Regions from separate parts of the Homo sapiens genome. Here region 2 is linked to region 1. The links come from fine-mapping of genetic effects on gene expression. A gene starts in region 1. The other region holds a variant in brackets. All regions are shown on one strand. Distances are from middle to middle. Region 1 holds the start of NR6A1 (nuclear receptor subfamily 6 group A member 1). Region 2 overlaps NR6A1 (nuclear receptor subfamily 6 group A member 1).

The links. PIP is the estimated chance that this variant, and not a neighbour inherited with it, causes the effect. A credible set is the group of variants that fine-mapping cannot tell apart.
Region 2: its variant is the best candidate, but not a certain one, in a credible set for the expression of NR6A1 in whole blood (TOPMed, PIP 0.67).

The regions. Positions count from the first base shown.
Region 1 is chr9:124,763,613-124,779,016 of GRCh38, reverse strand. NR6A1 (nuclear receptor subfamily 6 group A member 1) reads left to right here and starts at 7,706. Exons shown (of 10, transcript NM_033334.4): 1 at 7,706-7,997. The coding sequence starts at 7,898. LOC124900274 (a long non-coding RNA gene) reads left to right here and starts at 8,537. Exons shown (of 2, transcript XR_007061773.1): 1 at 8,537-15,404. It overlaps LOC107987126 (a long non-coding RNA gene), which reads right to left and starts at 7,660. Exons shown (of 2, transcript XR_001746926.3): 1 at 7,244-7,660; 2 at 5,180-6,315. It overlaps OLFML2A (olfactomedin like 2A), which reads right to left and starts at 1,884. Exons shown (of 8, transcript NM_182487.4): 1 at 1,657-1,884. The coding sequence starts at 1,746. RefSeq lists silencers at 1,511-1,810, 1,881-1,980, 7,637-8,216, 8,757-9,006 and enhancers at 7,307-7,566, 7,357-7,924.
Region 2 is chr9:124,511,776-124,524,331 of GRCh38, reverse strand. NR6A1 (nuclear receptor subfamily 6 group A member 1) reads left to right here. Exons shown (of 10, transcript NM_033334.4): 10 at 1,539-7,057. The coding sequence ends at 1,627. Among named protein-coding and RNA genes, the nearest start is that of NR5A1, 11 kb to the right of the region's middle. RefSeq lists an enhancer at 11,724-12,276. The variant T/C (reference allele first, on the strand shown) is at 5,111.

The DNA of each region.
Region 1 (15,404 bases):
GGCCAGTGCCCACTGCTCATATACTCACCGTGTGGCTAGTGGCTTCTGTCTTTTATCTGTCCGTGGGCAGGCAGGACACTCACATTCTACCAGGAAAGAGGCTGGAGAGGTATTGGAAGTCACTTTTTTGCCCTCACGCTCTGTGACCAGGGCTCTGGTCCTGCTCCTCACTCTCCCCAAGGTCTGTCCGTTTTTTTTTTTGTTTGTTTTGTTTTGTTTTAAGACACAATCTTGCTCTGTTCCCCAGGTTGGAGTGCACTGGCGCAATCTCCACTGACTGCAACCTCCGCCTGCTGGGTTCAAGCGATTCTCCTGCTTCAGCCTCCCGAGTAGCTGGGATTACAGGTGTGCACCACCACACCTGGCTAATTTAATTTAATTTTTTTTTTTTTTATAGAGACGGGGTCTCACTCTGTTGCCTAGACTGGTCTTGTGCCACTGCGCCCAGCTAATTTTTGTATTTTTAGTAGAGATGGGGTTTCACCATATTGGCCAGGCTGGTCCTGAACTCCTGGCCTCAAGCGATCCACCTGCCTTGGCCTCCCAAAGTGCTAGGATTACAGGTGTGAGCCACTGAACCTGGCCATCAGGGAGTCATTTCCAGAACACCCCAAGTGCTCTGGTGCTAAGTATTTTTTTTTTTTCTTTTTTTTTTTGACACGGAGTCTCGCTCTGTCGCCCAGGCTGGAGTGCAGTGGCGCGATCTCGGCTCACTGCAAGCTCCGCCTCCCGGGTTCACGCCATTCTCCTACCTCAGCTTCCGGAGTAGCTGGGACTACAGGCGCCCACCACCATGCCTGGCTACTTTTTTTTGTATTTTTAGTAGAGACGGGGTTTCACCGTGTTAGCCAGGATGGTCTCGATCTCCTGACCTTGTGATCCGCCCGTCTCGGCCTCCCAAAGTGCTGGGATTACAGGCGTGAGCCACCGCGCCCGGCCTAGTGCTAAGTACTTTACAGGCATGACCACACCGCATCTAGAGACCATCAACTGCAGGAAGTGGGTCCCATGATTCTCCCTGTATCTACAGGTGAATAGACGGAGGCTCAGATGGGCGATGGCGGATGAGAAGCGGATGTGCGACTGAACCCAGGTCGGCTTGACACCAGAGCAGATCCTCTTAGCCACAGCAGAGAACAGCTCAGACCACTTCTGGAGCTACCTAGTCCTCCAGGGGGTGCACCCGGTCCCTGGCAAGAACATCAGAGGCCAGGCGAGTGGCCAGCGCGGCTGCGTTCATCGGGTAGAGAAGACCCCCAGTCCCCAGCGGGCCGTGAAAGCCGTGGCCCAGGGCTTGCTGCAAGCCTGGGAGTCGTTGGGTAACAGTTGCCAGGAGCTTCCCCTACGAACCCCGAGTCTGGCCAGCACTCCGGGGAAATCCCCCGACCCCTCCGGGAATCGGACCCGGTCCCAGCGCCCCTTCCTCAGGCCCCGGGTCCCTAGCATCCCTACATCTCCAGCGCTTGTTCCTCCACGCGCCCCTCTCTCGGGGCCCCTGCCCCTGCGGCTTCAGTGCTGAGAAGTCCCAGGTTCGGTCTCTCAGCTCCCGGCTCCTCCGCCCTGGCCCCGGGCTCCCTCCCGGGCCGCACCCCAGCCACAGCGCCCCCTCGCGCCCCGCTACCCGCCGAGCCGCGCGGGTCCGAGGGGCGTGCGTACCTTACTGTCGGCGCGCGTGGGGCGGCCGCTCAGCAGCAGCACTAGCGGCAGAAGGAGCAGCGGCCGGGGCGGGAGGGCGGCAGCGGCCATGGCGCCACGGGCACGGTAGGCACAGGCGGCCGGGCACGGACGCTGGGAAGCGCGGGCTGCACTGCGAGCTCCGCGCCTTCGCCCGCTCTGCCTGCCCCGCGCCCCGCGCCTGCACCCTGCTGCCAGCCCCGCGGGTCTTCCAGCGCCGCCAGGGGCGGAGCTAGGGCGGAGGGGGCACCCCGCCCCGCCCCGCCCGCCGTTCGCGGGGCCTCCCCGTCGTCGGGCGGCTCTCCCAAGGGCATCCCTGCCCGCGCGCCAGGGTGGGTCTCGATCGCAGCCGGCAGGAGCAACGGGGCCAGGGCGAGGCGCGTGGGCTCCTCTCACGGACTCAGGTCCTGTCCTGTGAGTCGTGGGACCTTGGGCGTGTCCCTTCACCTGTGTGCCTCAGTTTCCTCATCTGTAAGATGGGGGACTCGTGCTTTCCTTTTGGAGTGTTTGTAAAGTTCGCATGAGAGACGGATGTTCCCAGGGCACGTGAGCCCTTGCGCTCTCCGATTTCACCCACTTCTGGACAGGGACCTGACTGCTGTAAGCCTTCCCAAGGCTCAGCAACCCCAACCTGTCTTCCGTCTTTCATTTCTCCTTCCCTCTGGAATCCCTCCTGTCGGCTCCCAAACTCCAGTAGCTTCCGGCTTTTAAATTTTTATTTTTCTCACTCTGTTGCCCAGGCCGTAGTGCAGTGGTGCGATCCCAGCTCACTACAGCCTTGACCTTCCCAGCTCAAGTGATCCTCCCACCTCAGCCTCCTGAGTAGCTGAAACTACAGGTGTGCACCACTACACCTGGCTAATTTAAAGTTTTTTTTTTTTTTGCAGAGACGGGGTCTCACTCTGTTGCCTAGACTGGTCTTGAACTTCTGGGCTCAAGCAATCCTCCCACCTTGGCCTCCGAAAGTGTTGAGATTACAGGCATGAGCCACTGCACCCAGCATTTCCTTTTTTTTTTTTGACTGGGTCTTCCTTTGTCACCCAGGCTGGAGTGCTGTGTTGCGAATACAGCTCACTGTATCGTCAACTTTCCAGCTCAAGCTATCCTCCTCCCTCAGCCTTCTGAATAACTTGGACTACAGGCATGTGCCACCATGCTGGCTAATTTCTGTATTTATTTTAGGGATGGGGTCTTCTGTGTTGCCCAGGCTCTCAAACTCCCGGGCTCAAGCAATCCAGCCACCCTAGTCTCTCAAAGTGTTGGGATTACAAGTGTGAGCCACCATGCTTGGTCTCATTTTCTTCATAGAATTTATTGCTCAATGGGACTGTCTTTCTTGTTGGTGTGTTTGTTTCCTTGTGTTGGAGCATGACTTCCTAGGGCACATTCTTAGTTTCTCCCCATGAACATTGAACTCAGTGGTTCTCAAAGTGTGGTCCTTGGTCTCAGCCTCCGCATCATCGGATAACTTGTTAAAAATGCAAACTCTCCCAGCCTGGGCAACATGGTGAAAACTCGCCTCTACTAAAAATACAAAAATTAGGCTGATGTGGTGGTGCATGCCTATAATCCCAGCTACTCGGGAGGCTGGGGCAGGAGAATCGCTTGTGAACCCGGGAGGCAGAGGTTGCAGTGAGCCGAGATGGCACCACTGCACTCCAGCCTGGGCAAGAGTGACACTCTGTCTCAAAAACAAACAAACAAACCCAAAAAACAAAACTTAGCTGGGCGTGGTGGCACATGCCTGTAGTCCCAGCTACTTGGGAGGCTGAGGCACAAAAATCACTTGAACCCAGGAGGCAGAGGCTGTAGTGAGCCAAGATCGTGACACTGTACTCCAGCCTGGGTGACAGAGCGAGACCTTCTCAAAGAAAAAAAAAAGAAAAAGAAATGCAAATTCTTAGGCCCCACTACAGACTCACAAAATCAGAAACTCTGGGCATGGAGTCCAGCAATCTGTGTTTTAACACACCCTCCAGGGCTCCAGGGGGCTTAGGGTTTGAGAACCACTGACCTGGCACAAGGTACGGTGCTCTACAACTCTCAGCTGAATTAAAGAACCCTGTGCAAAGCACACACTGAGTACAAATAAGCTGCTGCTGCTTCTTTTTTTTTTTTTTTTTCTTGAGACAGAGTCTTGCACTGTCGCCCGGGCTGGAGTGCAGTGGCGCAATCTCGGCTCACTGCAATGTCCGCCTCCCGGCTTCAAGCAATTCTCCTGCCTCAGCCTCCCAAGTAGCTGGGATTACAGGTGCCTGCCGCCACGCCCAGCTAATTTTTTGTATTTTTAGTAGAGACAGGGTTTCACTATGTTGGCCAAGCTGGTCTCAAACTCCTGACCTCGTGACCCGCCCACCTCGGCCTCCCAAAGTGCTGGGATTACAGGCATGAGCCACTGTGCCCATCCACAAATAAGCTTCTTCTATAACTAGAGATCCCCTGGGAGGCATCAAAACCGGGGCTAGATTAGTGTAAAAAGTAAATATCGTGTATGTTCTTATGGACATAGACTATCTGAAAAACAATGCAAAAAGTCAGCACGGTGGTTCTAAGGAGATCCAGGGAGTAAGAACTTTCATTGCATCCTGTGGGTTTTGTAATGTGTGTGTCCTATGTATTCAAAAACGGGACAGAGCGTACTTAAAAGAAATCGAAGCCGGCAGGGGGGATTCCCTCCCCAAGCCCTTTCTTGATGAACTGCGGCCTTGCTCTGACTCTAGGCAGGACAAGGAAGAGCAAGGCTGCCGTCACTAGAGGAACTCTGCCCCCTGCTGGCTGTTCCCCCACATGACCTGATAATCTCTGGCTGCCTCCTCTTTACCCTTCTCTCTCTCAGTGGGCTCTGGTCACCACAGATTCTCCCAGCTCCTCAAATGGGCCAAGCCGTGATCTGGCTGGCCTTGGGACCTTGGCACATGCTGTTCCTTCCACCTGAAAGCCTTCCTCTCCACCTAGTCTCACTTCTAGTCATCCCTCCCGATTGAGATCAGTCAATCTGACCCGCCTCGGCCTCCCAAAGTGCTAGGATTACAGGTGTGAGCCACCATGTCCGGCCATGCCTGCCTTGTTCTTAGCTGTATCCCAGTCTGGTCCCGTCTGTCTGCTGCCTCTGGCCTCAGAACCACAGCCCCCTAAGATCCCTCCTTACCCTTAGACACATTCCTTTCCAGATCTTTTGAGTCCTGCAGGTGGTAGCAGAGTCTTTTTCATCTTTCTGAACCTGTCCCCACATTTCTAAACTGGGGGAGAAAGTATTGATTTCTTAGGATTGTTGGAAGAAATGTAGAGAGATTAGATAAAAGGCCCCATAGTAGGTGCTGGACTCATAGTGAGTGCTTAGTTCATTGGGCTGTCAATGCTTAGGACAGTGGCTGGGGTCTCTAGCACAGTCATTTCCCTTGTTTTTCTCAGTCTTGTGGTATTTGACTCCTCCCAGAAGCACTTTCAGAAGACATGCATCTGAGATTTAGAACCACTCTTTAAATAACATTAGTAAGAGGTTCCATTTATTAGGCCAGACCTTTAATTGCTTTGCAAGCATCGTTTAATTCTCATAGCATTCCTGCTAGGTAGCAACTATCATTATTACCCATCCCCTTAGAAGACAGGAAATAGAGGCTCAGAAGTCACTCACCTAAGGTTAGCTGTTTTTATCCATTCTTTCACCCAGTCAGCAATTATTGAGAGCCTACTATGTGCCAGATCTGTACTCAGCAGTTGGGGTTATGAGTGAGAATAAAGGGATGTGACTAGTCAGGGAGGTGTGGGAAGGTTTATGGAAGGAAGGGACAACAGAGCTGTAGTCTGAAGGACTGGAGGAGTTGTTTCCAGGGGCTGAGCATTTGGCTGAACTCTTCTGCCCATCTAAAGAGGGTTGACTTAGAATCTTCATCAACTACCAAAACTCCAGGGCTGCACGTTTCTGCAGTGCCACTTAGGCTCTGATGGCATCTCCAGGGACAGAGAACTCACTACCACCAGAACCTGTGACAAAAAGGTAGATTCCTGAGAAAGGCCAGATGGTCCTGACTTTTTTTTTCTTTCTTTTTTTTTTTGAGACGGAGTTTTGCTCTTGTTGCCCAGGCTGGAGTGCAATTGCGCCATCTCGGCTTACCGCAGTCTCCGCCTCCTGGGTTCAAACGATTCTCCTGCCCCAGCCTCCTGAGTAGCTGGGATTACTGGCATGCGCCACCACGCCTGGCTAATTTTGTATTTTTAGTAGAGACGGGTTTTCTCCATATTGGTCAGGCTGGTCTCGAACTCCTGACTTCAGGTGATCCGCCCGCCTCAGTCTCCCAAAGTGTGGGGATTACAGGCATGAACCACGGCGCCCAGCAAGGTCCTAAAGTATTTTAGAACCCACAGCTGAGGGAATGGCAGGCCGTCCTCTCTTAGTCACAGGGTTTAGCTCCTGAAACACTGCTACCTAGCAGAGGGGATCTAGTTGTCCCTCGGTGGAAGGTATTAAGGAAGATGCCACTGAAGAAACATTTGAACAGGATCTTGAAAGATGAATAGGAGTTTGGGAGTGGGTCAGGTGAAGTCAGCCGCGTTCCAGCTTGAAGGAGCCAAGGATTAAGGTTCTGGTGTGTGACAGAATGGAGCTGGAATCCCCATCACTTCTGGTGGACTTCATCAGTGCTGGAAAGGGACAATATTGTTGCTATCTCATAGAGCAGGTATGAGGTTTAGACGGCAGAGCGTTAATGTAAGTCTCCCAGATTACGTATGAAATACAGTTTCACCAGGGTTGGTAAGGTCCAGTTGCCCCCAAGTGCAGAGAAGCGTTGCAACTTTCGTAGCAGGTGAGGGACGGGGTATGGTGCGAAATGTGGGCAAGGGTCAGGCCAAGCAGGGATGCGAATGCCAGGACGAGGACTTAAAATTAGGCAAAAAAAAAATAAAAGGGCTAAGGGATTGGTGGGGCGGGTGGGGCAGGAGAGGGCGAATGAGCGGCCACCGAGGAAGCTGCAGCATAATCCGGCAGAGCAGAAGTGGGCAAAGCACCAACGTTCTCGTTCTTTGTCTTCAAGTGGGCCAGGTAGGCCTTAGACCCTTGGCGGCAGCAGCGAAATCCTTTCCCGATGGGGTCGCCGAAGACGGACACCCCGGCGGGCCTAGTGACCGGTGGCCGCGCGCCACCTGGTGGCCGCAGCGGGTGGATTCGGCCGGGAGCCGCTGCAAAATTCGGGATTTTGCTTCCGGAAAGCTTCGGGAAACTGAGGTGGGAGGGGCAGGGGTTTGCGATCTTCCAACTTGATCCTGTCCTTATTCCAACCCCCTTTTACAGATAGGGAAACTGAGGAAAGGGGAAGGCAAACAAGGCTGGGCAAGGGATCCCTCTTAAACGGAAGGTTTCAAGACACCTGGGGTCAAGAGCCTAGGGCTTTCTTTAATAGCCCCAATGGCCCGGAGCTTAGTTTGCCCATCTGTTCTATGGGCAGGGGGAAAATGAAAGGGGAGGAGGGGAAACTTTAGTCTTTGCCGCCCACCCGGAGGTAAAAAGTCTTTAAAGACTACCCCGGAAAGAAGAGTTTTATATATTCCATTTGCATACGAACGCAGTCACCTCGAGTTAAACTCCGGTCCTTTAATCTCCGGTCCAATTTGTCCCGCAGCGGCAGGGAGAGGCCCACGTGAGTACCTTCAAGCCCCGCCTCCAGGGCCCCGCCCACAGGGCTGGGCTTCGTTGCACGTGCTCACCCGGCTGCCTCGCGATCCACCTCCTCGCAAAGACTCATTGTTGGGGTGGGGGGTTACGAGGACTCTTAGGGAACTTTGATCAGGTAGAAATCACAATCAAGACAAGGCCCGGAAGTATCCGCTTACTACATAGACATCAAACGCTTTGTCATGGTTCTTGATATTGACAGACTTTAGCTTTCCCTTCTCAGGACTTCTTATCCCTCCTTCCACCCCTTCAGTTGGTGCGGTCGGCGTGGCCGGCCTCGCTGAGCGGACTCCAACTTCCAGCGTGCCCCGCAGGGCCTTGCGCGGCAGCGGCGTGTGACGTCAGGGGAGGGAGCTGGCCAGTGCTGAGGGGGCGCGGCGCGGAGGGGCGCGGAGCGGCGCGGAGCCGGGCGGCTCGGGGCCCAGAGAGAGCCGCGGCCGGGAGCTCGCGGGCTCCTGACAACCTCCTCCCCTCGGCGGACGACGACCACGGCGACTAGGGCGCCGGTCATGGCGGAGCAACAAACCCGGCGCGGACCCTAGGCACCACCGCATGGAGCGGGACGAACCGCCGCCTAGCGGAGGGGGAGGCGGCGGGGGCTCGGCGGGGTTCCTGGAGCCTCCCGCCGCGCTCCCTCCGCCGCCGCGCAACGGTGGGTGAGGGGCCTGCGACGCCCGGGCCAGGCAGGAACCGGCTTCCTGAGCCTCCGCCAGGGATCCCCCTCCTCTCTGCCGACCCTCGCCCTGGGAAGCCGCAGCGGCCCCGCGGCCCCTTAGGGTGGCCCTTCACCCCGTTCCCCGTTGGCGCGGACCCTCCCTCTCCTCCCCGGTCTCGCTCAGGGTGGATCCTCCTCCTTCGTCCCTGTTCCCTTCTGCGCGGACCCTCCCCCTGCCCGGGTCCCTGGGCACCGAGCTTCATTTCCCCCTCCCCCCGTCCCCTCTGCACAGGCTTCCCCTCCCCCCGTCCCCTCAGCACCAATCCTCCCTCCTCCCCCCGGGTCCCCTCCCCCTGTCTTCCCAGCACCGAACCTTCCCCTCCCCCCGGGCTCCTCAGGTTGGAAGTCCCCACCGCGGTCCGTCAGTGGGGGCATCCCCTCACTCGGGTTCCCTTAACGCAGAGCCTCTCTTTTCCCCTACAGGGGTTCCTCCTCCCACCGAGGACGCTCCCTTCTTGCCCTGTTGACCCGACTCCACAGCACCCTTGTACCGCTCAGCTTTCTAGAGCGTTTTCCTCTTCTGCAGCCTCGAGCGTTCTTCCTTGAATACTACGAGCCCCCCACCTCTGCCGAACCCCCGTTCGCTAGACATCCCCCAGTCGTTTCCTTTTTCGGACCCCTTCGCGCCTCCTGCTTCCCCTGCGCCTCACCTTCCTCAACGCCCCGCGCGCTCTGGCCGGTCTCCGCCCCTGCTCAGCTCCCCTCTCCGCCAGGCAACGGCTTTCCCTGGCCGAGGGCTCCAGCCCGCCCCGGGGCCCCGGACACCTGCCTCCTCCCGGCTTCTGCCCGGCAGGTCCCGGTCCCCACCTCTTAGTCTCAGTTCTCCTCTTTCTTGTCCCGATCCGGGACCTTGGGAGCTGAGAATCCCTCACCTGGCCCGGCCCTTCCTACCGCTCGTCCCTCGCCCCCTCGCCCGGGCCGGGTCCTCAGGTTCCTCGGGGCTTCCTCGCCCTCCTCCCCTTCGCTCCCTCCCCCTGCGGGGTGTTTTATTTGTATCTGTTTGATATTTTCCTCCTCGGTGTTTGCCGCGGAATGTTTTTATTGGTAACGTGTTAGGAGCTTTTGTGAGGTCGTAAAAGGTGAACTTTTGAACTTGGAAAGCGCCCTGGAGCAATTAGCGCAGGCGATCGCCCCGGGAGGCCTGCATTACAAAGGGTGCTCGCACCGGCCGGCAAACGCTCCGGCGGCAAACCCGATTTATTTATTTGCCCTGTTTTCCACCTTTCACATCTCCTCATTTCCGAATAAAGGGAGGCTCTCAGAGATCAGTGCCTCCTCCCCTCGCTGCGCCATAAACTCGCAGTTCTCTGAGAGATCTAGGACCGAACAGTGTCTAACAAGTAACAGATTTCAAATTGAATGCAAACACCCGGGACAGTTAGGAGGCACTAAAAATTAACTGCTTCACCAAGAGGTTTCTCAATCAGGACAGTGACCTGGCAGGTGTGAGGAAAGTAACCTGAAAATAGGTCAGTTAGGCGCTCAATTGTTGAATGAGTGAGTAGCTACAGACGGTGGAAATCTTGGGTTGGATCCGTGCCTTCATACGTTTATTAACTAGTCAAACATTTTGTTAGTTCAGGAGATCTGGTGTTTTTTACAAAAGGGAAAAGTCCGTGTAGAAGAGAGCTTGGTTAACTTCACTTGATGTTGCTGATCTTAAAAATAATGATGTGTTTTCAGAGCTCTTTTTTTTTTTTTTTTAATTTGTGTATGATGTATGATGGCTAGGTGGCTGGCCGTTCCGTGGGCTGTCGTTGGCAACTAATTTCTGAATGTGAACATGTTTGAGATCAATAAAATTCCGTGTCACAAAGGGGGAAGCTGGAATCCAGTTAGGGTAGAAGGAGACAGTATAATAGGAACAAAGGATTTCTTTAATGCCTTTGACTTTTTAAGCTAGTTTGTGTGGAGATTTGGTTTGGTATTAATTTGTGAGTGTTGTAAATCCTGATCTAAATTTTCCCATGCTGATTTTTTTGAATCCAAACCCCAACCTATCTTATATCCCATATTAGCGTGTATATTTCTGTGATGCCTTCCTATGTGTGAATACTTCCTGTACCCACCTGTGCATATAATGTAGATGACGGATTTTACTGCAATTCAATATTTACTGCAATATTGCTTTCAATTCTACTTGAGAATAATAGTGTTGTAAGAGAAACCTAAGAACTGCATTTGTTATTAATTATTCATTAGTACATTTTAAAGAACTCAATGGTAATTTTAACTCTTAATCAGATTTCCCATTCATAGTCTCATTTCCTCAATTGGTCAGAACCATTTGAAAGAATGTTATCGAGCAATCCATTTAGACTAAGGTGGCTTTAAAGCTTTACATTAGTCTAAGTTAGTGGTACAGATGTTTTCTTTTTGCTGAAAATACAATGGGAACTTTTGGCAGCTTGATGGGCTTAAAATACACTAGACGCTAGACCGTTGTGGGATATTTTTCAGTGTAAAAACTAGCATTGTGCAATGTTTTACAATTTATGTTCATTAGCACTTATGAAGTTAACATGCTCACAGAAGAATTGCCAAAAATTTTTTTAAGTTTGCCTATGGAACAATGGGCACATTTTTTCTTTTTTGCTTCCTAATTAATATTTTTCTCCAAAAATATATGAAACTGCTTGTTCTGAGTAGAAAAGAAATGAATTATCTGTTTTTTACTCCTAGTGACTGATTTCTATTTTATATGAACTATTTTCAAGAGACAACTATACAGATAGGGGGTCTTTTGGTCTCTGTCATGAAGAAATAAACTGGAGGTGGCATTTTAGAAATGTTTTCCTACCGGAAACACCATTGATGCTGAATTTACAGTCCTTTGAATGGTTTTTATTCTGTCAGAACAGAGTTTCTTTCTAGCCTTTTGATGCACCATCATCCTTCCAGGAATTCCCTGTGCTGACTGCGCTATTTTCAGTTGTTGCTTGTAGGTTTTCATAACAAACATGAACTCATTTAGTTGTAATAGAGGACTGCTCCCTTTTGGGATTTCAAAGGAAGATGAATGATTTGAGGAAGTGTATGCTGAATATTGCATTTGTTCATTTTAAGAGAATGAGGGAATATACTTTTAAATATTTAAAGCAAAGGAAGGCAAAGGAAGGTTATAAGCCATTATAAGTAATTAAAAGCATATTTTATGTAATTACACTTTAGAGGAAATGGGGAGAAGTTCACTGAATAGCACGGTGCCTTTTTCTTCTGCTATAACCATGCCGTCCAAATGTTTATGCTGGAAAATAAATTGGCAAATATTTCCCATGATGATTTAACTTTTCAGTTCTGTGATTTAAAAAATTAAGTTAATTCTGAGTTGCCCCAGAATTTTTTCCTACTCCCATTAGAAAAAAACAAAACCAAAAACATGCTGTAGTACTGTTGTTTCTTAGTACATACAGCACGCAGGTTTTTCTTTTTTTTTTTTTTTTCTTTTTTTGTAGCTTCTGTGACCTCCAAAGACGGCTAGGGTAGAAGAAAGGCGACAGTGAGCAAATTCACTGGTGATTTTGCATAGCTGAGGTGGGAGATGACCACATTTACAGTCTCCAGTGTACAAGCCACCAAATCATTCAGCAGTTCTGATTCATGTAACCAAAATATGATGACATGATTCCTAATCTATAATTCATTCTGACTTCCGTAGCAAAAAGGTGTATGCAAGGCACATGTGTTAGTACATGAAAGGGAGTTGGATGGGGAGCTAATGAAAAAAATAACTGCTGGTAAATTTCCAAAAATATGTCCAAATCATGCATTTCCATATTTTATTTAGAATTTTCTGGTTTCTCATTCCCTACTTTTTTCCTAGGGTTTTGGGGCAAAGGTGGAAAATAGAGTTTAGATTAAAATACCACATTTTAGAATAGTAGAGGATGGTAGGTAGAAATGCCAACTGTTGCTGTAACATTGGTAGAGGAAGTTTCTTATACCACCCCTAGTGTTTGTTGTGCAAGTTGGCTTTAAATTGCTAATGATGCTTGCATGTTTTGGAGCTTGGAGCTGTGTTTCATTTGTGTTAGTGGGAAGATTTACCACTTCATTTTTATAATTGGGTAGATATTATTTATTGGTTATGTTGAAAAATTGGTTTGTTAATGAATTGTGTTCAGATGGCAACTTCTAGCTTAAGAATTGCATAAAGCCAGGATAGATTCTCCCACATTAGGAGACTTCATTGTCAGCAAATTCATCGAGATCTTTGGGGCTGGTCATAATCTTTGCTTCTTAAGTTTATTTTTGATTTATAGCCAAATTAATGACACTTTTCTGTTCAGTATTTTTCCATGCATAATAATTAAGTTGAAAGTGACACTTGAGAAGATGTGTTTTAGAGTAAATTTTACATTGTTGGGTCAGTCTGTTTTTTTTAAGTAGGACAGTAAAAGTGCCTTATTTCATGTGTAAAAACAGATTCTAGTCATGTGGGAAAAAGGTCAGAATTAGAAAAATCAAAGTTCTGAATCAACAGATAAACACGCTTGTATTTCAATAAAGAATAAATGTGCTTGAAACAGTTTTTAACAGAAGGTAGCTATCTAATCTGCCCACATAAGTAGTGATCTGATATACCCAACTCTTTGTAATACTTTGAGAGCATTTCCAAAACCAATTAAGTTGTGAAGGAAAATGTTTTTCACACTTCTGCATTAAGATCAACCTTAACTTTTTAATTAAAGTTTTTTCCTGGCTCAGGTAATTTCTTAAGGGTTTATGGATGCCTTCGATAACTAGGGTTCAGAAATACCAGAATTATTAAAAATGAGCAAGAAAGTGGTTTGGTACTGAGCAGGTAATTCTTTCTTGGGTATTGAGCTTTTTAGAGCTTAAGTTTCAGATTCAGCTGAGCTTAAATTTAAAAAACGTCTCTAGATGTAACTTTGATATACAGTATTTCTAGAATCCAGCCCAGTCTTTTGTTCATTGATTGTTTTCCAACATGGCTTGTCTTTAAGAAAAAGACAAGGGTGTTAGACTGTAACACCCTTAGTAAGTAATAGAAAATCAGAAGAAAACCACTGTGAGATGTCTAACCTGTTTTTCAGTATGGCGGAGAAATAGCCACAGGAAAAAGAGGAGAGCATCATTTGAAAGAATAAAACATTTCCTACGGTATTTCGTTCTTCATTCTTTGTTACCTGCTATTAAACAGCAGCCTTTGTAGAAAAGCTTCTCAAAAAAACCCAGAGTTTTTTCAGTGGTTACAGTTATTTAAATAAGACTTTACTAGTGTAACCCGGTAATTCTAATTAACAGTGATTTAGTTTGGGAGCGGACCAGGATTTCCTCAGCCGGCTGCTGGGGAGCTGAATTGCTTTTTTCCCCACCCCCAGCTGCACCAAATCTTTTGATCCCCAAGCTACAGTGGTTGTCATTTGAGAAAGCAAACTGAGAGAAAATACGTTGTGAAAATAGCCTACTTTGAAACTTCATTTGCATTTTGGAATTTTTGTTCTTAAAAAAATTATAGGAATAATTGAACTCCCAAATTTTTATCTTGACAGAAGCAAACTGGCCAAATTCTTACGTCTAAATAGAAAATTCCTGGATTTCCTAAAATTTTTTTGCTTTAAAAATTTCGGGGGCTGTTTTAATATTGACAGTCACGATTTCAAAAGAGAAATGATTCTAATTATAAATTCACAGGAGGGCTTCAAGTGTTCTGAGTTTCTTTAAGGAGTGTGTGTTTGGGACAAATAAAGTTATGCAATGGAGTAGTTTTCATTCAGGGTAGTTTGTGGTTTCTCCATCAGCATTATATAATCTCAAATACAGAATCACGGATTCTTACGTCTTATACTAAATAAACCATACAATTCGTTACATTAAGAATTAACTTTAAAAAAGTGTCTTTAAATGATGAGGCCTTTGGATTCTAATTGTAAACTCTACACCCTTCAATTTGTTTACACCAGAGAAGCTATTCAAGCATAAACCACAGATGGCAGTAGCAGTATATTTTTCTGTTTCTGGACTGATTCTTGCCTTTAAGTTGGTGTCAGTTCTATGGGCCCTGCTGATAAGTCAGCTGGCAGGTGTAATGTTTCTAAAACCAATTCCCTGGGCAGCAACATGTAATGTATTCAGGGAAACAAATCCAGGCATTTGATTTGAAGATATACTCTGTGGGTGGTTTGACCCAGAATAGTGACTTTGCACTCACTGCCCAAGTGAGAAATTATTTTAAAAATTTGGTAATAGTGATTAAGGGAGTTGTTAGAGTAATAGCTATAGCACATTGGAATTGTAGTGGTATTATTAGCAGAGAATGTATCTAACAGATATTTGCTTGAACAACTATTTGCATTGTAAACAATTTATAACTCATTAAAAATATACTCAAGATTCATATTTTGAGAGAGAAATGCACAACTAAATTCTTCATGTGAAAAAGATGGATAATCTTCCCAGCTTTTTATTTCCAGTTCCTCCTTACATTTCATAGAATCATGGATTTTTAGATCTGTGTATAAGAGCATTTTGGAGGTCTAAGAGTGGGTTCTGCTTGCTCTTCCAACCCATCATTGTAATGCCCAAATTTCTGTATTCTCTATTTTCTTCTAAAACACTGATGAAAAAAAGAGATGATTGATTAGATTTCCTGTGATATTTTATCTATGATGTTTCCTTCAGGTGTAATCCCATAGTTTAGAGCTCAGGAAACATTTTAGTAACAAATCTACCGCAAAATGAAGCATAGACTGAATCAGTGAAGGGAATAGCTTAACCAGATAGTTTTTTCTTTTCTTTTTTTTTTTTTTGTGATGGAGTCTCACTCTGTTGCCCAGGCTGGAGTGCAGCGGTGCGATCTCTGCTCACTGCAACCTCAGCTTCCTGGGTTCAAGCGATTCTCCTGCCTCAGCCTCCTGAGTAGCTGGGATTACAGGCATCCACCACCATGCCCAGCTAATTTTTGTGTTTTTAGTAGAGACAGGGTTTCACCATGTTGGCCAGGCTGGTTTCGAACTCCTGACCTCAAGTGATCCACGTGCCTCAGTCTCCCAAAGTACTGGGATTACAGACATGAGCCACCGCGCCTGGCAGTTTTCATTTTTAAAACTAGTTTTATTAATTCAAGTCCCCATTTCAATCATGAAGCTGTATGAAGCTGTATCACCTTGGAAGAATTAAAAATTCAGTCTTTTAATTCCTTATGCTCCACTGGATCAGATGCAATGTTCTTTTTATTATGGCTAATTCCAGTTTATCTAATTTAGTCTTTCTGTCACGAAAGAAAAGCTAGAAGACAGAACACTTCTGTGTAGCCTTATGTACTTTATCCCCCTTCCTCATCCCTTGCTTTTTAAAATTTATAAACAAATAATGAAGTAG
Region 2 (12,556 bases), 250 kb after region 1:
AATTTTTAAAATTATCTTAATTTCACAGAATTTCCCATGAGCTTTGAGGGATCATTTATTTAAAGTGATATCTTTAGCTGGGCACAGTGGCTCCTGCCTGTAATCCCAGCTACTCAGGAGGCTGGGGCGAGAGGATCAGTTGAGGCTAGGAGTTAAGACCAGCCTGGGCAACATAGTGAGACCTCATCTCTAAAAAATTTAAAATAAGAATAGGAAAAATAAAGTTTAAAATCCTGTATTTGCAGAGGAATTTTATGTATTGGGGTGTGTGTGTATGTATGTATGTTTCTATGTGGTCTTGACCCCTTCTGAGCTTTCTGACATTTAAATAGGTCTATTTCAATATAAAATCCTGGCTTTTTTGGTTGTTGCCTTGCTTCATGTGGTAAAGATTCTTGTTCTGGCTGTCCAGCAGATACTGAGGGGCAGCTCAGAAATGTGACCTATAGACCGGGATTCTTCCTGTAAAATTCAGCAATACAGTTTTTTAATTCAACATAAAAATTCTGGAGAAAGCAATACGATTTTAAAGGAAAATTATTTCAATCTGACAAGGGAATTTTTTTTTCTATTTCTTGGGCCACAAAGCAGTCTAGCAAATGTGAGCTGGGCCTAAACTATTGGAATTTTAGGGATATTTTGACAGTTTGTCTCAGTATTTTCTAAGCTAGAGTTTACCACATGAGATATTAAGCAGGCACTCTGTGAAATAAAAGGAAGTCAACAATTACATGCCACTCTCCTCCATAGAACTGGGTCCTCAGCCTTGGCGGCACTTCCAATCACCTGGAAAACTTAAAAAAAAAAAAAAAATCAATGTTTGAGTTGCACCTGGAGAATTCTGGTTTAATTGGAATGGGGTAGAGCCTGGAGATAATCAGTGTTTTCGAACGGCTCCCCAGGTCACTCAGAGGTACTGTTTGCCAGAAGAAACACAGCCTTAGGTATTTATAAATTATATTAGCACACTGAATGCTCTGAGAAGTCCTTCAATCAAGAAATCTGTAAAGCTCTTTTAACCCTGAGTTTCTCAAATGTATTTGCCTCTTTACCCCTGCTTCTTTTTCCCCTAGTACTTTTATTAACCTATTAAACCATTCTGAAGTGCAATATTTTATAGAATATTACTTAGAAAATCTACCGGGGGTTGAGGGGGTGAAGAAAACAGGACAGAAGTTTTTTGGACTACCTGTCAGTTTCAGCTTCCTTATCTATAAAATGAGGGTAAAAAGTAGTACACAGAAATAGTGTGAGAATTCAACGAGGTAATGCATTTAACCACCTAGAACAGAGTTAAGTATTCCCTGAGTAGTAGAATGATGATGAGTTGGCACCATTACTAGGCTCCCTGGGCACCCAAAGGGGTCTGGATGTTAGGATGTTAGCCCAGTGTGTCCAACCTTTGTGATACTCCTGGCACTTCTCTTGCCCCAGTCACTCAGCAAGGTGATACTCTGCCTCCACCAGCCCAAGGAGGCTGACTTGCCTGTCCACTAGAGTGACCACTGCTAACTCTTCTTCTCCCCCCTTGTTCCCAGGAAAGATGGTGAATGTGCCCCTGGAGCAGCTGCCCCTCCTCTTTAAGGTGGTGCTGCATTCCTGCAAGACCAGTGTGGGCAAGGAATGACCTGTTCCAGGCGCCCTCCTCAGGCCAACCACAGCGTCTTGGGTGGGCAGGACAGGCTCTGGAGGGAAAAGCCAGAGAGACCAAGATGGAGGCTGTGGAGCAGCATTTCCCGTTGCCTCCATAGCAAGAAGAGTTTTTGTTTGTTTGTCTGTTTTTTTAACCTCATTTTTCTATATATTTATTTCACGACAGAGTTGAATGTATGGCCTTCAACATGATGCACATGCTTTTGTGTGAATGCAGCCAATGCATTTTCTTACAGTTTACAGAATGTGAAGATGTTTAATGTTACAGTGTTGTCATTGTTTAGAAATAGTTCTTTTGTATTTTGAGGGAGAGGGTGGGATGGGGCTAAGATGACTATTTCCATAATGTTGACAAAGATGACTACCTCAATGGAAATGGGGGGTGTGGCCATCCCTACTTTTTCCACATTTTCTCAGCAGACTCATACATTTGTCTGTCAGAGAGCAAATTGCCTTTTTTAGCCACAGAATTGCCAGATAAAACGGCACACTGTAAGGGGGCAAAGTGTTGTTAGGAGATTCACTAAGCAAGGTTGGTGAGACGGCAACAGGGTAGGAGGTGAGGATTGAGCCACGTCCTTTCCTTGGAAAGCGTGAAAATTAAGAGAGTAGGGCACAGTGACCATATTTAAGGCAGGTGTCCTTCCACCCAACAAGTCCTAAGGGCAGAAGAATTTCTGTTCTCACACCTTGCTGCCCCCCTTACCCCTGCACCACCATCATTGTCTACCACTGCGAACTTTCCATCTAGGCAAAGTCCTGGCAATCACTTGATCCACAGGACTCGCCTCCCAGCTCCCTCGGGGCCCCCAGCTACCTAGTTTCCTTACCTGGATCTCCTGAGGCCCACCTTCCTCCTTCCCACTCCCTTACACATTTGACTTCCTATTGGCCCTTTGAAAAACCAGCTGAGCAGAATGCCATGTTCTGAAGCCTGGTGCCCACTACTGATTTATTCTCCTTTCACCTTGTTTTCTTCAAAGGGTAGTAGGGCAAGGCCAGACTGCAAAAAGAATAGACACTCCCCTTTTGAAATCTGTTCCTCTCCCCTCCCCTTCCTACCGCACCCTCAGGTCTAAATCCGAAAACTTCAGGCTTTTTTAAACAATGAGAAGGACCATTCACCTGTCTGCTGACCAGAAATGTTGCCCCTAAGTTCTTCTCCAAGTTCTCCTTTTCTCTCCAGAGTGAGACCAGTTTTCCTCAGGGACCCAGGACACAAAGCCCAAGGCCCAGAGTGGCTCAGCTGCCCCTTACTTCAGCAGTGGACTGGCCAGCCAAGGCCTGGAGGGCTGGAGCCAGAAGCACCTGGAAGGGAAGGGGGGCTTTAAACTACCTCAGGTTCCTAATGGCCCGGCTGCTACCTCTGCAGACATGGCCTGGACTCCTTGACCTCTCACTACCTGCCCCACCTTATCCCAGGACGTGTTCCTTACCCTCTTGACTTTGGCCAGCGCTACACCAGGTCTGTCTTTGAACTCTTTCAGGTGCTTGTCCTGCCTACACCCAGGTATCTTTCACAGCCAGTGTGGCAAGCAGACCACTTAGTTGGCTGCATGCCTGGGTAGGTTGGAAGGGCCCACGGCACCTTCTTCTGCCTATTTAGTCAAAGGCTGTTTGCTGTCTCCTCAACTCAACCTAGTAAAGCTACCCAGGAGGGCACCACGTCGTGTGCATACTGGGTAGTCCATGTCTGATTGTAATTGTTTCTTTCTGGTGAAATGTTACGGGTACCAGCAGAGTGATGATTTTGGCCCTTGATGGATCTAAAACTCGGAACATTACTCCTCAATGCCGTTTCCCCAGTTGCTCTGAGAAGGAAGAGACATGTTCCTCAGGAAAAGCTCCAGCTAGCATGTTTTTCACGTCAGTGGGAAGATTCTTGTGTGTTCGTGTGTATCTGTTTATTTCTAAGTTCACGATACTTGTTCCCCTGAATTTTATTTAACCAACTAGATCACATTCTTTGGCCACAGGTCAGACTCTGAGCTGCTTTCCTCCAGATCGGGAAGGAGACACATATCACAGATGCCTTCTCTAAGACAGCTCCTGTGTACAGCATCGTTCTTTGCTGAGGCCTCTATCTGTCCAATTATTATTTTTGAAATTGCTTTTCAAATTAAACATTTTACCCGTTGTGTTGGGTGTCAAAAGAAATTGCTCTCTGATGAGGCAAGAACATGTCTCTCCAACAACGTAGTATTGAACAGAGCAAGTTGTTAATTTGTGGAGTAGGGGAAAGGTTCTGCAAGTTGCCATTGTACAAATCCAGTTTTACAAATGTTTGCAGCAGATTCCACAGAACAAAGAGCCCATTCATTGCCGAGAGCCCTGCAGAATCTCAGAGCAAAGTGGCTGTGTGTTCCGAGCCGGAGCCTGACCTGTGGACCGTCTTTAATGTCTTCTGCACCAGTCCTTTTATGACGTGGGCTTTTTTTAAACAGGGTAAAGTGAATGTGTTGCATTGCAAACTCAGGTATTATGAGGAGAAGGTAGGAGTGTAGCTAGCAGCGTGGAGACATTAGGTCAGCCACTAGATGTATTTGTGAATTTGGTTTGAAGGACACGGAGAAAGGTTGGAGGGGAGGTTTGGTGTGTTTGTTTTTTGCTTTCTTCCCCATAATGTTTGGTTAACAGGTAGCCTTTTTGCGAGTGGAAGGAGAGAAAAGTTGTGCATGTTTTCTCTAATTTCTCTTTCTGCCCTCTCTCTGATCCCCAACCACCAAAAGCACTCACTTTGAGTGAGGATTTTTTTTTTTTTTTTTTTTTTTTTTTTTGAGGCGGAGTCTCGCTCTGTCGCTCAGGCTGGAGTGCAGTGGTGCGATCTTGGCTCACTGCAAGCTCCGCCTCCCGGGTTCATGCCATTCTCCTGCCTCAGCCTCCTGAGTAGCTGGGACTACAGGCGCCCGCCACCACACCCGGCTAACTTTTTTTGTATTTTTAGTAGAAACATTGTTTCACCACGTTAGCCAGGATGGTCTCCATCTCCTGACCTCGTGATCCGCCTGCCTCGGCCTCCCAAAGTGCTGGGATTACAGGCGTGAGCCACTGCACCCAGCCGAGTGAGAATTTTTATGCCATAAAAATACGACTCTGAAAGCTACATGGAAAAGGAGAATCCCACCTCCTTGCACTACATTGAAACATGCAAGCCTTTCCCTCCCTCTCCTTTTTGATGTTTTCTTGTCCCAAGACAAAAGTTTGGCATCTTGGAACTTATTCATGCTCTCTGGCTGCCTTTGTAGACTTTTGGAGTCCTTTGCAAGGTTTGGTGGTCTCGTCGTTAATCTGGAGAAATTCCCCAGAATCTGTCTCAAAGCGCTCAACCTGGCTCAGAGGACACCCAGCCCCTATGCCCCACTCACAAGAGAGGTGGGCAAGCCCCCAGGGATAGGAGGAAGTAAGCAGGATCCTCCCTGTCCTGTTTCCCAGAACCAGAGCAAGGAATGGGGAATCC[T/C]AAGGGTTTCTGTGGCATCACTGAATGTCACCCACTCCACATCAACCTGCCTCTCACCTGCCACCCTTTTTCAGGGAGGTGAGTACCTGCCATGGTCACTGTTACCAGATCCTTAAAATCCTGGGCTCTGAGCTAGGTGCATTGCTCTGTTACCCATTTCCTACATTTGTTTGTTTGTTCTTGATTTCCTGGGGGAATGGGACTGATGGAGACAGACAAACCCACTGTGGGCAGCATCTAAGCCATGTCCAAGGTTGGTCGAATTAAGGGAACCCTGGCCTCTCAGCAGGACAGAAAGCTGAGCTGTGGTTCCAGGCCCTCCTCTCTGGGCCCCTGGTGTGTATCTTTTTTCCTTGTTGCTTTTGAAATTTTTGCAATTATTTTAAGAATCCAGTCTTTCAGACCAGCCCTTTTATTAAGCTTTGAATTTTTAATTGATTTTTTTAAAGTAAAAAAAAAAAAAACCCAAAAAACAAACAAAATTTAACAAAAAAATCCGCTACTCTTACTCCCCTGCCTCCCCCTACCCCAGCCCATGAGAGTTCCCTTGCACTCCCCTCTGCCTTTGCAACTGATCATCCTCCCTTTCTCCTTGGCTTGAAGCATCTATGTCCAGTATCTGTGAAATGATGTTTTATCTGTGTGTCAGGATGAGAAACGGCAGTCATTCCACCAAGTGTTGGAAACTGGTTAGCCTGGAGACAAGGGTTTCTGGGGCCACAGCTCAGGGATGTGTATTTAATTACAGGATCCCCAGAAACTCCTCTCTAGGCTGCCACAGCAACATTTTTTCTGGGCTTGGGAGCCATACCTGAACTGTTTCCTCCAAGGCGGGAACTCCAGAGAGCCTGCCAAGTCTGGAGCAAGCTGGGGCTTCTGCTTTGGCCAGACCTGGGCCACCATGAGACTTGAAGGCTTCTAGCTGTCCTACGACACGAGCCACGGTGGCCCTGCCTCTCCCCGCTCATAGAAGCCTGGTCCCTCTGTCTAGCCCAGTTCCCATCTAGCATCCGTCTTCTGGGCCTGAAGCCCTAAATGGACCACAGCCTGCACAGGAATCAACTGTAGGCTCAAAGGGAGGCGGTGAGTAAGGTCAGAGCCTGCTCCAAGCCCAAGAACAAAAGTTGTGTTATGGGTGGAGGCTAGTCCCCCAGATCTAGCCCTGCCGTCTTTGCCCTTTAATGACCATTGTTTTCTTTCTCTAAAATGTCTTGTAATAGGTGATAATGTTGTTGATTCAAATTTCCATGAAAAAGAAAAAAAAAACTACCTCTTAAGCGACATCCTGGTCGATTCCTCTCTGAGGAATCCTGTGGGAAAAGAATACTGTAGCTCCTGCTCTGTTTACATGTTTCTGTCGGGAAAGAAGCCCCGCCTGCCCTGGGGTGTTGGTGTTTTTGTCTGTGTTGCCATCCCAGGTCTGCCATAGGGGCTGGTGGCTGCATTGTGATGTCTGGGCTGTGTCTGGGGATTCCTTCCCACCTACCCAGCCAGGGACTAGTCACCCCCCTGAAGAGGCCTCCATTTCCTTCCTGTGCTCCAGGGCATAGGGAGCACCACTCCCACAGACACCACCTTTAAGGGCTCTAGTGGCACACACATCCACGAGCCTACCCCCAGGTTACCTGCCCTAGGTCCACCTCCACCCACAGTCCTGTGTGTAGGAATCGAGGAAACGGGATGTCCCTGAGCCCTTGTCTCCAAAGGGCCGGCCAAGGGCTGCCCGCCAGCCTGACTCCATCAACCCTCCATGACCAAATGATAGCTGGCGGGCTCTGCAGGCTACCCAGGCCCTCTGCTACCTCCCACCCTGCCAGCTGGCAAGGGATGGGCCCTGTTCTGTGAATTGACTACCTGTGGAAATGTGACCAATTAGTGTGAAATGCATGTTTAGCAAGTGTTAGGTACTGTATTTGAACCAATAAATGTGAATCCTTCTGCACATGGCATCTGTCTGTGAAGCTTGTCTGGGGTTCTGGGGAGGGATGATGGCGTGTCCTGAGGCGCCGGCTTGTGCCTTCAGACCTGTGTCTCTTGCTCATAGCTGACACCCACCTCAATTCTGTTGCTGAGGCTCTGGCAGAAGGTGGTGTCTCGGAACTGCCTGAATCAATGAACCAGCACTGACTGAAGTGCCCAACTTGTGTGCCAGGCACCATATTGAACTTCAAGGATTATTCTGTTTTATAAGTGAAGAAACTACAGTTGAGTGAGGTGAAAAGACTCTCCCAAGGTGAGTGGCACAACCAGAGAAGTGAGCCTAGTGGAGAGGCAGATACAGACTTTTGCAGTGCAGGGGGGATGAGGTTGTCATTAGGGATGTATGTGGGGTTGTAAGGGCCTGGAGAAGGAGTGGCTTGTTCTATGGAGGATAGTCAGGAAGAGCTTCACAGATGAGTGTTGTTGAAGGTGGCCCTTGAAGAAAGTCACGAGGCAAAGGGATCCACAGGTAGGCCAGGTAGAGGGATCCATGTCCAAAGGCCTGGCTGTGTATCAGAAAGATGGGAGTGTTCAGGTAAAACAAGGGACTGTCATGGCAAGAATGATGGCAGGTGGGAGGGATTAGCAAGAGTTGAGGCTGGAGAAGCAGTTGGGAGCCTTGGATGCCACATTCAAGAGTGTGGGGAAAGAAAGCTGTTTGCTGAGTCTTGGGCAAGAGAGCAGCATCATAGTGCATGAGAGGCCAATGGATGGCCTAGGATGCACTGTGCTCTAGCAAAGTAATACTGTCTTTCCAGAAAATAGGTGAGGTCTATTAATAGCTTTTCTAGAGCTGAAAAAATGGAGGCTCTAAGAGATCAAGGGATGTGGCCCAAATCACACAGGAGTGTTAAGTTTGTACTTGAACTCAGATCTGCCCAACTGTCCTGTAGGCCTGCTCATATGATCAGAGAAGTGGCAGAGTTTGGGTTGAGGGGTGTATGAAGACAGATGGGAGAGATGAAGGCTTCTCAGGCTGGGAAGATAAAGGCTGAGGAGGGTTTGATCAAAGTCTATTAATCCTCTTGTGTGAAATGAGGGAAGCCCAGCTGCCTTCCCATTCCTCAGCCTCCAGCACAAGAAACCAGAGAGCCCTTGAGTTTTGAAAGAGATGGGTTTAGAACAAAGCAAATGCTGCAGAACGAATTAATAGACTGTCTTCCTTGCCCCCACAAGAGGGAACAGATACACAGAGGTGCCGGGAGGAGAAGGGACGCATTGGCCCACCGCCTCGTGAGTCCAGGCGCCGTAATTGGTGCTTCACGCATGTCGTCTCAGTAATCTTCATAACAGCCTTGCAAGGGGTAGGTCTCAGCCCCATTTTTCTAATAAGCAAATTGAGGCTCAAGGAAGTTAAGCCTTTTGCTTCAGATGACACATTAGTCAGTGGCAGAATTGGCTTTTGAATCCAGGTCTATCTGATACTAAAGTTACAACTGGCTTCCTCCCTGCTCAGCCTTAGCAATTCAGTAGTGCTGAATGTGGATATCCAGAGTTTGTAGCAAAGCTCAGTAATGGCCTTTGGGTGAACCTTTTGCCATAGAAACAAAAAAATAAAAAACATTAATAAAGGATTAATTCTGTAAGAGGTGGATGAACAGACCCAACCAAAGTGAGCTGAAAAGCGGTGCTGCCCAGTCATGTGGAATACTGCAGGCGCTACATTGGTATGGCTTCCCAGAGCTCAGGAACCTCCCCCCCACCCCACCCCACCCCCAGAGATGGTTCCATGGAAGAAGCCTGAATTCTGTTGCCAAAAATATGGGAAGTGCTGCACTCGCTCTATCATCCTCATTGATTCTCAGCCCTTACTGGCATATTAAAGTCTCGAGAAGTCCCACCTGAAGAAAACTAATGTTGTTTAACCCAGGTTCTACCAAAAGCATTTGAGCATTGGACATTTTTGCCTCCTGTTAAAATTCTGTTGGGATAATATTCCATGGAATAAAAGGACACTGCTCTAAATACATAAATTGCTGCTTATGTGACACTGAGCTTTCAGTTTCCTGGGTGCCAGCCAATAATATGGAGGAATAATAAAGTAACATCTAGAAAACAAAGCAAAGCTCTGTGCTGAGTATTTTGTGTGCATTAGAGTACTACTGATTCCCCAGAGCAACCCGGTGAGGTTAATGCTATAATGATCCCATATTACAGATAAGAAAACAGAGGCCCAGAAAGGGTAAGTCATTTGCTTGAGGTTACATAACTGGCAAGATGTCAGGAATGAATATAAACCAGCATCGATTGAGCACCTACTATTCGGCAGGATCTGTGCTGTGATTCTTATCCTTGTGCAAACCCTCAGAGGTACGTAAGACCATCTGCATACCTGAAGAAACAGGGAAGGCTGGCTACTCCGAATTAAGTCAGAGTCTGAAGACAGAAGCCCCTGGAAATGATGGCAGGGGAAAGTGCTGGGATGAGGTTGAGTCTGACTACACAGAGCTCTTTCCAGGGGTCGTTTCCTTCAAGCAGTCTATGAGACAGCAGGCACGTCAACCAGAGATCTCACCACCTGAGTTCTCATTCCAGCTCTTGCCCTTCCTGGTTGTATGTGACCTTGACCCAGACAGATGCTTCTCTGATCCTCACTTTCCCTGTCAGACAAATGGAGGTGCTGGTACCTGTGTCCTGGGGGACAGGGGGCAGTGTTAAGGAAGATTGAGTGTGGCTGGCTTAAAGTTGGGTCTCAGTGAAGTCAATACATGAAAGGAGGCTAGGTACGGGGAGCTGTCGCCCCTACACCCCAAGAGCAGAAACTTAGCAGAGCCAGGAGCCTTGGCCTGGCTGCCCATCAGGGTTTTAGGTCCACAGTGGTAATCAGTCTCTCAGATCCTATGGCAAAAGTGCCCAACTGCCAGACCCGGGGCTCTTGGAGTCTTGTTCCCTTGGCAACAAGTCTCACCATGGAGACCACAGCCCCATCCTTGCCCTCCCTGCATGCTGCCTCTCCACAAACCCTTGTTCAACACCCAGTCCTAGGAGCAGTGTAGGTACTGAGGAGTGCTTCCAGGAGGCACTTCCTCAGGTGAGTTGGAGGCAAAAGGAACTCCCATTTTTTGAGTGTCCACTTTATGTGTGGCAAGGTCCATAGGCATCAGCTACATACGTGGTCTCGTTCAGGTTAAAAGCCACGTGCTCACCCTGTTTTCCGTAAGTGGAAACTGAGGCTCAGGGAGGCAACATGGACCAGCCCAAAGTCTCACGGCTAGTCGGTGTTGGAGCTGAGACCTGAATCCAGGGCTTCTGACTCAGGAACCCATGCTTTTTCTGCAACTCCCCATTCCCACCCATGTTACCAAGACAAAGCCTCCAGCCACAATCTGAGGAGGGCTGGGTACCCGGGCCTCTGCCAGCAGCACGAGCAGCCAGCCAGCAGCCCTCTGAGGTCTGGGCTGGGCCCAGCACCATTACAGGAGGAACTGTACTATTTTAAGCCAGGGCCAGAGGGCCCCTTGTGGGCACAGGGAGGGTAGCCTGGGGCCCTTGGCCAGCTTCCCGGAAGTCCCCATGGCCTCCCTTTTCTCCCGCTAGCAGGTTTGTGAGGCAGTGACTTCCCTACAAACAGGAAGGAGGCTCTCAGGCTGGGAGACCTCCAGCCCCAGCTTCCTCCCCATTGCTGCCACCCCCAGGCTTCTCCACTACATGGGGGAGCCCTCCAGCACCAGGCCCTATCAGTGTCCATCATCCAGGCTGACTCCTAGCAGTGGGTGGGAGGGGGCCTGAATTTGGGCTCCCTGGGCTGCCCCAGCTCACCCACTACAGTTCCAAGGTCTCTGCTTTCTGAAGCCCTTTGTCCCTCACCCAAGCCCGAGTTCTCATAGACATTCCCACTCAGCTGGCCACTGTGAGCTAGAAAGAAAAGTGTCAGTATCCTTAGATGTGGCCCCATTCAAGGACCCCAGAGAGAGAAAAGAAAAACAGACTAGGCGGCTGAAAATAGCAGAGAGAAACAAATTAGAACATGATTAAGATACCGACAGTGACAGATTCATCGTGACAGAGATGAAAGCAGAGACAAGCGAAGAGACACCAGAGATGGCTGTGCAGGGCTGGAGCCGAGAGCAGGGGGTGGTGCAGCATGATGGCTTCTGACCACCCTCCAAGCACAGGCCCTGTCTCGGGGCTGTGGGGGCGCCCACCGGCTGCGTGGCTGAAGTGGAATGTGGGGAGCAAGGCTGGGTCACCCCTTGAGGGCCAAGCGTGTGCACCGAGAGATAAGCTACCCCAGGCTGGGGGCCCCAGCTGCACTGCACGCTCCAGGAGCCTGGTGGAGAGGCCAGACCCAAGGCTGGAGCCCAGCTCTGCCAGATGCCACCTTCTGCACCTCCTACGGGGGCTCCCCCAGGCCTCATGTTCTAAGGGTCCCAGGTCCTCTGCCCAGCCCTTGGGGCAGCAGGTTCTGGGTGCATCCAGTTCACAGAAGAGCAGTGTGGGCCCTAGGAATAGTACCAGCCACAAAGAGGCTCCTATCTTGCTTCTCCAGTGCGGGCTGCAGTCCTGGGTCAGGAGAGAGGTCGGGGGGGTAGGGGCCCTAAGCTGAACACGCAGAGCAGGGGCTCTAGCAGGCTGTGGGGTGCTGAGGAGAGCTGTGGGGGCGCAGCTCTTCACTCTGTGAGCTGTCCCCATGTGGCACTGTGCACTCATGTGCCTGAGTGTGTGTCCATGTGCTTTCTCGAATGTGCAAAGATGTATGTGTCCACGTGTTGCCAGGAGCCCCAATCTGCCTCCACAAGTCCCTGCTCTCAGTCTAGAGAACTGGCCCCAGGGGCACCTGGCCTTTCCCATCCCCACGAGGTGGTCCAGCCCAGAGAGCCACCAGGCAGAGGGGGAAGAGCGAGCAGGTCTATTGCAGGCCCCTAGCCCCCCTCCCCACACTGCAGCTGAGGCTCCCGCTGGCCACGGCCTTGACCCAGCACTATGGACTTCTCTGACATTGGCATCGGATCTGAACATCTGGCAGCAGGCTGATAAGGGGTGCAGCGGAAACAGCCTCTGCTGCCGCCAGCAGGCCCGCCCCCTCCGCTGCCCTGCACGGGGTCTCCACATCCACCCTCCCTCCACCTCCAGCTCTCCAGGCCTCGGCCCTTCCCGCTTCTCGTTCTCTGCCTCAGTCTCTCTCTCTCCGTCTGAATCTCTCTCATCCCTACTCTCTCTCTCTTCCTCATTTCTTCTCGCTCTCATTTCTTCTCTCCCCAACCCTCACCACTCTGAATTTCTCTGTCATCCTCCCTCCCTCCGACTGCGTCTCCCCTTTCTCTCTGTGTTCATATTTTCTGCCCAAGCCTCTGCAGCTTCTCTCTCTTTTTCTGGCCACCTTTCCACTCTGCAGCCTGATGATTCTGTCCCTCTCTCTGTTTCAGTTTCTGGGCCTCTGGTTTGTTTGTTCCTTATCCCACCTCCAGGAAATGGGCCTGGCACTTTGGGAAAGTCCCCAGTTAGGAGAGAGACCCTGGGCTTTGT